Regions from separate parts of the Homo sapiens genome. Here region 1 is linked to region 2. Evidence: fine-mapped expression QTL. A gene starts in region 2. The other region holds a variant in brackets. All regions are shown on one strand. Distances are from middle to middle. Region 1 has its middle 4.6 kb from the start of ENEMAL. Region 2 holds the start of EHBP1L1 (EH domain binding protein 1 like 1).

Region 1 (5,366 bases), 100 kb before region 2:
GCGCCTGTAATCCCAGCTACTCGGGAGGCTGAGGCAGGAGAATCGCTTGAACCCGGGAGGCGGAGGTTGCAGCGAGCCGAGATTGCACCATTGCGCTCCAGCCTGAGCAACAAGAGTGAAACTCCGTCTCAAAAATATGTGTATATATATATATATATATATTTCTTAGAGATGGGGTCTCCCTATGTTGCCTAGGCTGGTCTCTTAACTCCTGGACTCAAACGATCGATCCTCCCACCTCTGCTTCCCAAAGTGCTGAGATTAAAGGTGTGAGCCACTGTGCCTGGCAAATAAGCTGACATTTTGCTTGACACCTCCTGAGCCAAGGACACAGACACCCGAGAGATGTCCACAGGCTGCAGAGGTCCAGCTCCTGTGACCAGGCAGCAGCCTCAGTGGAAGAGCACATGTTCCTGGGCCCTACCACAGGCTGATGTGGAGAGTCCCTCTGATTGAAAATGCCCAACTCAGGCCACTCCTGCCCGGGGGTGACTGTCTCGCAATAAGATACAGGGCCAGAAGGATCCAGGAACACAGGAAGAGTTCGGCAGGGCTCAACAGGAGAACAGAAAAGAACTAAAAGCAGAGACACCATGCAAACATGAGGCACACACGCAACAGGAGACAGAGCAAACTGCAGGAAAAAAGAAGGGCCCTGTTAGCCACACACCGGCCTGTGGGCTACAAGCCCTCCAGTTACAGAGCATGGGAAATAAGGCCAGGTCATGCCTGTCCTCACCTTTGAGTTAGGGCCGAGCTGGGCAGAGAATCTGATTGCCCTTCCCTCCCTCTTCAGTTCCTGCAGATCACTTGGTTCTTTTGTGTTTTTTGCTTTTTGTTTTTTTTTTTTTTAAGACGGAGTCTCACTCTGTTGCCCAGGCTGGACTGCACTGGCTCGATCTCAGCTCACTGCAATCTCTGCCTCCTGAGTTCAAGCGATTCTCCTGCCTCAGCCTCCCGAGAAGTTGGGATTACAAGTGTGTGCCACCATACTTGGCTAATTTTTGTATTTTTAGTAGAGACAGGGTTTCACCATGTTGGCCAGGCTGGTCTCAAATTCCTGACCCCAAGTGATCCACCCACCTCAGCCTCCCAAAGTGCTGGATTACAGGCATGAGCCACCGTACCTGGCTGGCTTTGGGTTCTTGAAGGGAAAAGAAAAAGCCCCATGGCAGACCGGACCTGACTGACGGGCAGGAAATCTTAATTCCAGACCTGCTTTCACCTCCTCACTGCCGGACCTGGAGCCAGGGCTGGCTGTCTCAGGGCCTCTGCCTACCATTGCCAGGAACTCTCTGTTGCCAGTCTGTATTTGGAGAGGCTGAAGGGATGAAGGTCCTACCTCACTCTGGAGCCCTCCCCACAGGGCCCCAGCTTGCACCTCGTGCACCAGCTCCTTAGGGGGCAGTGTGCACCCCTGGAAGGACTCCCAAGGTCTGGGACTTGCGACTCAGGACAGACCATTCCCTGCAGATCATTCATCTGCCAATTTAAGAAATGGGAGAGAGACGGAGGCCCGTCTGCCTCCCCTGCCAGCTCCTGCTGATTGCTGGTGGCTGCCTCCTGAGTTCTGGGGTCCCTCTCTTGACAGTGGTAAGAGTGCCAGGAACGGAGCGCGTTTGCTGCACACCATTTGCCATTGGTGCATCGAGCACACTCCCAGCTCCAGGATTATGGGAAGACCTTTTTGGGGTACAGACTTCCCCTCCCTGCAACAAAGAGGAGCTCTTCCATGGCCCCCACCCTGAGGGGCACAGGAGGTCCACGGCCTGGAAACTTCCTATTTCCTGGGGCTGGCCCAGGGCTTCTAGTCTGGCCTTCCATAAGGCATGGGCCAGGATGCTGGCCCTGGGGGCCTCTCAGCTCAGCCCCACGTGCCCCTCTGTGGACTCTCAGTCTCACGTTTGTCAGGGTTCTGCCATTTAGAAATGATCAGCCCACCTCTAGACCAAGTGCCTGCCTGGAATGTCCTGTCCAACTTATCCACCAGCTCATCCTTCCGGGCCTAATTAAGGCCCCACTCCATCTCTGAAGCCACCCCATGCTCATGACTCTCCCTGACGCAGGTTCCCGACACACCGGGTGACTCAGCTGCAGTGTTTTTCACAGTCCGTGATGCGTCACAGCTATTTATAGGTGTGCTTAACTCCCTGTGAGGAAGCACTTCAACCCCCAAACGCAAGTTCCAGAAATATGCTCATAAAGATAAAGATAGAGAAAAGCTCTGGAAAAATACACAGTGCTGTTGCTTCAGGCAGAGTCCGTGTGTGTGTGTGTGTGTGTGTGTGTGTGTGTGTGTGTGTGCTTTCACTTTTTGCCTCATACATCTCATTGTTTATAAAATTTATCAATATTACAAAGTTGTAAACAAGGTTATTTAAAAACAACAAATTGGCTGGGCACGGTGGCTCACGCCTGTAATCCCAGCACTTTGGGAGGCCGAGGCAGGCGGATCACCTGAGGTCAGGAGTTTGAGACCAACCTGGCCAACATAGTGAAACTCCATCTCTACTAAAAATACAAAAAATTAGCCGGGCATGGTAGCAGGCGCCTGTAATCCCAGCT[A/G]CTCGGGAGGCTGAAGCAGGAGAATCGCCTGAATCTGGGAGGCGGAGGTTGGAGTGAGTTGAGATCATGCCATTGCACTCCAGCTTAGGCAACAAGAGCGAAACTCTGTCTCAAAAAAAAAAAAAATTATAAATTTCTACACAAAGTCTTGCACATTCCTTTAATTTATTCATAGGTATTTTATAGTTTGTGTTGCCATGTTAGCAGTTACAAAGTGGCTGGGCACAGTGGCTCACACCTGTAATCCCAGCACTTGGGGAGGCCGAGGCGGGTGGATCACAAGGTCAGCAGTTCGAGACCATCCTGGCCAACATGGTGAAATCCCATCTCTTCTAAAATACAAAAAATTAGCCGGGTGTGGTGGTGCACACCTGTAGTCCCAGCTACTTAGGAGGCTGAGGCAGGGGAATTGCTTGAACCCAGGAGGCGGAGGTTGCAGTGAGCCGAGATTGCATCACTGCACTCCAGCATGGTGACAAAGCAAGACTGTTTCAAAAAACAAAAACCAAAAAACCAAAAAACAAAAAGAGTGAGGTCCCCCTGAGTCACATAGCAAGACCCCATCTCTACACAAAATATTTAAAAATTAGCCAGGCATGGTGGTTCGTGCCTGTGGTCTCAGTTACTTGGGAGGCTGAGGCAGAAGGATTGCTTGAGCTCAGGAGGTTGAGGCTTCAGTGAGCCAGGATGGTGTCACTGCATTCCAGCCTGGGAGAGACAGCGAGACCCTGTTTTTGTTGTTGTTTTTTTCTTTTTTAAAGAAAATAAACACCAAAACAATAAAAAGAGTGAGGTAGGTAGGACTCATGTCCCAAAATAGTTCTCCCTTTTTAGTTTTTTAATTTTTAATTTTTAAAGAAAGTTTCATTCTGTTGCCCAGGCTGGGGGGGTGGGGTAGTGGCATAATCGTAGCTCACTGTAACCTGAAACTCCTGTGTTCAAGGGATCCTCCTGCCTCATGCTCCTGAGTAGCTAGGACTACAGGCCCACGTCACCATGCCCAGCTAATTTTTATTTTTATTTTTTGAGATGGAGTCTCACTCTGTCGCCCAGGCTGGAGTGCAATGGCGTGATCTCCACTCATTGCAACCTCCGTCTCCCAGGTTCAAGTGATTCTCCTGCCTCAGCTTCCCGAGTAGCTGGGATTACAGGCGCCTGCCACCACGCCTGGCTAATTTTTGTATTTTTAGTAGAGATGGGGTTTCACCATGTTGGCCAGGCTGGTCTTGAACTTCTGACCTCAGGCAATCTGCCTGCCTCGGCCTCCCAAAGTGCTGGGATTACAGGTGTGAGCCACCGCGCCCGGCCAATTTTTTTTAAATGTCTTGGCAAGATGGAGTCTTCCTATGCTGCCTAGGCTGTTCTTGAACCATTAAAATGATGTATTTCAATTATGTATATACTATTTATACATATATTAGGATATATCTACATGTGTGTGATATGAATATATATACACATTCACAAGCACATTATAAATGTTTGTATGTGTATATATACATACATAGTCATGTACTGAATAATGACATGTCCATCAATGATGGACCACATATGTGACAGTGGTCCCATATACTACCATTTTTTTTGTTTTGTTTTTTGTTTTTGTGAGACAGGGTCTGGTTCTGTCACCTGGGGTGGAGTGGAATGGGGCATCTCTGCTCAGTGCAACCTCTGCCTCCCGAGCTCAAGCAATCCTCCCACCTCAGCCTCCCCATTAGCTGGGACCACAGGTGCATGCCACCACACCTGGCTAATTATTGTATTTTTAGTAGAGACAGGGTTTTGCCATGTTGGCCAGGCTAGTCTCAAACTCCTGACCTCAAGTGATCTGCCCACCTCGGCCTCCCAAAGTGCTGGGATTACAGGTGTGAGCCACCGTGACTGGCCAGTAGTCAACTTTACAACAGGCCTAGGATGGGAGGTGATTGTCCAACCAACTTTAACTTTACTGTTTGAATTTTAAAAGAAAATACCCATGTACTTGGGTATTATTTGTTTGTTTGTTTTTGAGACGGAGTCTGCCTCTGTCACTCAGGCGAGAGTGCAGTGGTGTGATCTCGGCTCACTGCAAGATCTCTGCCTCCTGGGTTCAAGCGATTCTCCTTCCTCAGCCTCCCAAGTAGCTGGAATTACAGGCGCCCACCACCACACCTGGCTAATTTTTGTATTTTTAGTGGAGACAGGGTTTCACTGTGTTGGCCGGGCTGGTCTTGAACTCCTGACCTCAGGTGATCCACCCCCCCTCAGCCTCCCAAAGTGCTAGGATTGCAGGTGTGAGCAACCACACCCAGCTGTACTTGGGTATTATTAAAAAAATAATAAGTCACAGGATGGAGCCAGGAAGCCTGAGGCAGGTGAACCTATGAGGCAAATGTCACGTGCAACAAAGTGTAATTGGCTCTGGCAGCCAAAACCAATTGGACATCTTGGTGAGACAGTCTCCAAATGTGTCACAGGATATAATTTCCAAAGTTATAAACATGACTGTCTTTAATGTATGTACCAAAGGTTACTTCAGGTGTTAAGAAACTATAATGGTGGAAACACTAGTTCAAAGGGAACTGGAGAGACTGAAATACTCAGAGGCACTGAAAAAGCAATGCTGGAATAAGATTGCTGAGTTACATCCAAAAGTACCTGCTGCGCTGCAGGGTAATAAGCCCATTATCTTGGGTCATCTTTTCTACCTGACAGAAGCTAGCTATATCTTATCAATCTACTCATCAGAGCCCAGCCTCATCAATGGTGAATAAGTCAGAGAGGTGCCATGCCTAGAGAATCCCAAAGGTCATCCTATGGCC
Region 2 (5,366 bases):
AGGACTTGCAGGCACCAGTTGGGTTGCAAGGGTTATGGTAACAATAATTAGTGATAGTTACCAATTATGGCAGTAGTTACCATATATTTTCAAATGTTTTGCTGACGTTACTTCATTTCATCCGGCTAAATGGATAACCCCATTTTTTGGGTGAGGGTCATGACTAAAGTTGCATAGCTTGCAGGTGGTGCCTGATGTCCACAAAAACTTCGTTTAGGAAGGTGCGGGGAAGATGGGCTGGGGCCCACTATTCCAGGGGGCGGGGCTGGGCTGGGGTGGCCTGGACCCCAACTCCAGCCCACCCTCAGTTGTCTGCAGGTGGGGCTGCGGCAGTTGGACATGTCCTTGTTGTGCCAGCTGTGGGGCCTGTACGAGTCAATCCAGGACTACAAACACCTGTGCCAAGACCTGAGCTTCTGCCAGGACCTGTCATCCTCCCTCCATTCGGACAGCTCCTACCCACCGGATGCGGGCCTGTCTGACGACGAGGAGCCTCCCGATGCCAGCCTGCCTCCTGACCCGCCACCCCTTACTGTGCCCCAGACGCACAATGCCCGTGACCAGTGGCTGCAGGATGCCTTCCACATCAGCCTCTGAAGGGCTGGGGGGCAGGGGGCATGCACCCATGCAAAAGGCTCAGAAACTCCCCCTCCGGCAAGCCCTCAGACTTCGGAGCCTGCGCCTTCCCCCCTACCGCCTCACCTCACAGGAGGGCCAGGCATGTATTCCTCAGAGGCGAAACTGCCAAACTCTTTCTCCTGTCTTGGGTTGGCTGGCACTGGGGCGGGCATCTAGGGTACAGCCTCTGCTCATGGCACTGGGCCTCCAGTTCTTCCACATGTGTGCACCCCCAGCTTGGCCAACCCTCAGCCTTGCGGTGGGGCCCGAAGCATCTTCCCTTCCGCTTGGCGTCTCTGGGATTGGGATGAGTGCCTGGCTCCCATCTCCTCCTCACCTTTTGTTGCTATCGGCAGCTGCTGGCTCAGGGGCATCCCACCTCCGGGCTCTGGGTTCCTCTGCCCTGGAAGGGCTCCAGGACCCGTCCCAATAACCACCCACGGCCAGGAGGGCCAAGGCCCCGTGCTGGATATTTAAATTTAGGGGCCGGTCTCCAGGGCGCGTAGATAAATAAATACACTCAGCGTCGTTGTGCTCTGCCTGGCTGGCTCTGGGGCGGGAAGACCGCGGTGTTTGTGGCAGGTGCGGCCCCGCGCTCTGCCAGCAGGTGGCGCCCGAGACCCCCTCCCCCCCCGCCCCGCGCCGAGTGAAGGCCCTGCCGTCCCGCCGGGGCGGGGCTGGGGGCGCTGCCTGCTGGCCGAGCCTGGCTCAGCCGCCGGGTGACTGCGGTCGAGTCACTTCCCCTCTCTCGCCCGCGACCTCCGAGTCCCCCGCTCCCTCCTCCCAGTTCGCTTCGGGCTTTCCCTGCCTGCCGGGAAGGAAGGAGAAGGAGCCGCCCACCTTGAGGAGGGAAACTTTCCACCCCGCGCGGGGCGGGGTTGAGGCGGCGCAGGAAATGGGTGGCCGGAGTCGCCGGAGCAAGGGGCCCCGGCGGGGGCGGGGGAGGCGCCTCCGGGAACGGCCTGGGACCTCACGCCCCGCGGGTGGGAGGGAGGGGTGGCAGAGGCCGAGGGGAGTGAAGTCGCGGCACCTCGGGCCTTCCCGGAGGCCAAGCATGAGACTCCGCGGCGGTGAAGTTTGATTGGGGTTCCAGGGACCCGTATTCCCCGCTCAGTCTGTGAAGACCGCCGGCTCTCCCCACAGCACTAGCGGTCTTTACAGTTATCTGTGGAAGGTTTCTTAGGAAACCGGGGACCCACACCGCTGGGACTGAGAACCAAACCCAGTTGTCAAGCCCACCGGAAGAAGCCAGCACGTTCGGAGACAGTGGGTACTCAGCCCCCTACACGCGCACACGACACCTCACAACCTCCTGAAAAGAGGTGAAGCCGCACACCGAGGTGTGCGGACGAACAGCACATCCCCGCGCCCTGCTGCAGCCATTTGCCTCCTGGAGATGCAGCCCAGATGGCAGTCCTGGCACTCAGACATCCCGTTAAACCAAGTAGCAGTCACGCACCGGGCTCCTGTCCATTTACACACCTTGCAGAGCAGCGGGAAGGAACAAACTGACCTATTGCCCCAGGGCAGCTGACACCTGCAGAGGCTCATTACCATGCAGGGCGGGTGGGTAGGCGATAAGGGCTCTAATCTAGGGGTTCACAGCTGCTAACGCTCCAGGCAGGCTTTCCTGGGGAGGGAGAGTAAACATACACAAAAATGACACGTTTTCCCCATCCATTATAGCGCATCCCATTTAATAAGGAGGCATGGCAAAATCAGCCAGGCTTTCTGCTAAATGCCTTCTGAGGTTCATCCTCTCAGGGATTCCCTAAAAGGCGGAACTACAATTATCCCCATTTAATAGACGTTGAAACTGAGGCTCAGAGTGTTAGCGCTTTGCCCAAAGTCACACTTGGTTGGAGGTCAGTTATGATTCTCCAGCTACTTGTCGGGGTTTGGGATTATCTTCCCCCTTGACAGCAGAGTCAGGTTCTGAGGTTGGGCCACCGAGGTTACTGACGCCTTCCTGCTCTGGTTAAGACGTGGGTGGCTGCACCTTGGAGTTGAGAGCTGGTCCTCGTCCACATTCACAGTATGACTCTGAGCAAGTCCCTTCCCCTTTCTGGGTCTCAGTTTTCCCAGCCGTTGAAAGGGGGCCAGTAGTACGTACCTCCCAGGGCTGCGGGCAGGAAGGAAGGCGGCCCGGGCAGCGCTCTCTAGGGTGGCACCAAGTTGCTGGTTGCCCTCTCTCCACGCAGCCTCTGCGCGCACCGAGCGGGCACTGCGGTCGGGCGACACCCCTTCCACGCCCCCCTCCCCCGCCCCCGCTCCCGCTCCCGGGTCGCGGCGCGAGGCCCCGGAAGCCGGGTCGCCCCGCCCCCGCGCTCCTGCCCCGGCCCCCGCCCCGCGCCGGAGCCCCGCCCGCCTTCCGACGGGGGTGCGGCTCCAGGAAACGGCGCGCTCCCAGCTCCGCGCTCGCCACCCGACGCGCCCCAGGCGACCCCGCAGACTCAGCCAGACCACCCTGCGGGCCCCAGCGGCGGCAGCGGAGAGCGCGGTCCCGGGTCGGAGCCTGGGACACCTCCGCACGGACGGGGCGGGCGGCGCGGACAGGCCATGGGGACCCGGGCCGGGCCAGCGGTGGCGGGCCAGCGGGAGCCCCGGGCCTGAGAAGTGGGCGGCGGGGTGGCGGGGGCCATGACCTCGGTGTGGAAGCGCCTGCAGCGCGTGGGCAAGCGGGCGGCCAAGTTCCAGTTCGTGGCCTGTTACCACGAGCTAGTGTTGGAGTGCACCAAGAAATGGTGAGTGGGAGGGAGGCGGGGGGGCTCCCCCGAACTTGCTGGGACCTCATCCGGCCCTTTGAGCCTGAGAGGACTCTGCCCCCCCAGCCCAATGACCAAATGGGCCCCCACCCCAGCTTGGGCCCTGGTTCCGTTCCCAGGCTCGGAGATTCAGAAGTGCCCTTGCAATTTGTGGGACCCCTGGAGTTGGGGGCGTGGGCAGCCTTCCCTGCGCGGGGGTCAGGACTTTCAGGCCTGAGGTTCTGCCTGTGTCCACTCCTTCCTCAGCTGCGGTCAGGGCTGGGGGAGGGAGGCCGCATGTCTTGTGCCAGAAAGGTGGTTCAGGGTGGCATTGGAAAAGGGATCAAGTTTTGAGGTCTGCAGGTGGCTAGGGCTGGGGCAGGAGCCTCCCTGACCTTACTTAGTCCAGCTAAGAACAGAGATGTTGCCCCCTCCTCCCCTGCCATCTTGTTGAGCCAGAAGAACCCCTCCAACTCCCGCCTCTTCAGCCAGAGTGCTGGGAGGCTGGAAACATCTCCACAATGTCCTTAAAAGGGGAAACTGAGTGCTGGGAGGATTGAGGAGGGAGGCGGGGAGCAGCTTAAAGGGGCCTGAGGACCTAGGAGGTTGTGGGTCCGGGAGGAGAGGGTTGCGGAGGGCAAGGTGGCAGGGTGAGGGGTGATTCACCAGAGGGTGCAGGCCCCAGCCTGGACTACCAACAGGTTCAGGGGCATCTCGTTCACATGCCGCCACCCATAGCTGCCCAGGCCCCTGCGTCACACCCTAAATATACGTGCTTGCTGGTGTCAGCTTCCCTTGGCTGGATTAGGGCACAGCTGTGGGGGCCTCACCCGCCAGGCGGGGCTAAATTTAGGCTCCCCAGGGGAAGGGCTGGGGCAGGAAGGGACCATGGGGTCCAGGGGGAGGGGAGTAAGCAGGAGGCTGGGGTCCCTTGGGCAGCTGCCATATCCTTGGCCTTGCCCACACTGGGCCTGCTAGAGGGCCATTCACATCTTTCAGCAGAGCCTGGGAGAGCTTGGGGGCTGGCACTTGAACTCTGGCCTCTGGCTCCTGCTCCAGCATCCTGCGGGAGGCCAGGGAAACACTGGGCACAGCAGGCTGAGGGTGCCGGCAGTGTCAACGCAGCTGAGTCACAGGCGGCTGTGGGTAGGGCCTCCTGGGCTGCTTAGCCTGGAGCCCAGGCCGGGAAGCTGCCCCTGCCCAGGTTGCAGCTTCCCAGGAGGGCGTGCCCAGCCTGAGTCAGGCTGCCCAGCCAAGCCCTGCCCTCCCTAGGCACCCCCTGTCCGCTTCCCCTTTCTGGGAAGGCCCCTTAGTTACCCTTGCTCTGCCATCGCTGGCAATTTGGGCTTGGGGAAGGGAACTTGGCTCTGGGTTGGAGGGCTCTAGGCTCAACCGTGTAAACTTGTTTGGCTCCAAACCTCTGTGGGCCTCAGCATCCTCAGGGTTAACAGAGAGGCACTTATCCTGGCTTGGCCTCAGACGAACAGTGAGCTGGGCAAACCCCAGCATCACGAGAGGGTGCAGGCATGGGGCTGGGTACAGGCAAGGCCAGTTCGCGTGCTGCCCTGGGCCGGATCGTCCCCTCAAGCATCACCCCTCCTGGGCAGCAGTTGAACATCTAACCCCAAGGGGCCCTCTGCCCCCAGGCCCAGCCATGAGTCCACTCAGTGCCTGGGAATGGGCCCTGCGCAGCCATCTCTGTCCTCTGGCTTTGCCTCTGCCTCTCCTCCATGTCTGACCTGGCATATGCTGTTCAGCTTAGATGTCACCCCCTGGAAGTCTTTTCTGATTGCCCTCCAGGCTCCACTGTCATCATCTTGCCGAAAGCTGATCCTCCTTGGGACCCCTGCGCCCAGCAAAGGGCTGGACATGGTGGGCGAGGGATGGCGGTGTTGGTTAATGACAGGCTGACCCTCTGCTGCTTCTCCGGCCTCACCCCCAACTCTCTGCCCCTCTCTCTGATGTCACCCTCCAGCCGCAGACCCTTGGACTTGCCATTCCCTC

The links. PIP is the estimated chance that this variant, and not a neighbour inherited with it, causes the effect.
Region 1: its variant is fine-mapped to the expression of EHBP1L1 in whole blood (INTERVAL, PIP above 0.99).

The regions. Positions count from the first base shown.
Region 1 is chr11:65,470,163-65,475,528 of GRCh38, forward strand. No RefSeq gene overlaps it. Among named protein-coding and RNA genes, the nearest start is that of ENEMAL, 4.6 kb to the right of the region's middle. RefSeq lists enhancers at 1,132-1,677, 1,998-2,077, a silencer at 1,378-1,457 and a cis regulatory region at 1,787-2,346. The variant A/G (reference allele first, on the strand shown) is at 2,566.
Region 2 is chr11:65,573,045-65,578,410 of GRCh38, forward strand. EHBP1L1 (EH domain binding protein 1 like 1) reads left to right here and starts at 3,009. Exons shown (of 19, transcript NM_001099409.3): 1 at 3,009-3,362. The coding sequence starts at 3,259. It overlaps FAM89B (family with sequence similarity 89 member B), which reads left to right. Exons shown (of 2, transcript NM_001098785.2): 2 at 319-1,146. The coding sequence ends at 597. RefSeq lists silencers at 1,094-1,613, 2,634-3,053, 3,064-3,123, 3,184-3,283, 4,334-4,628 and an enhancer at 1,984-2,123.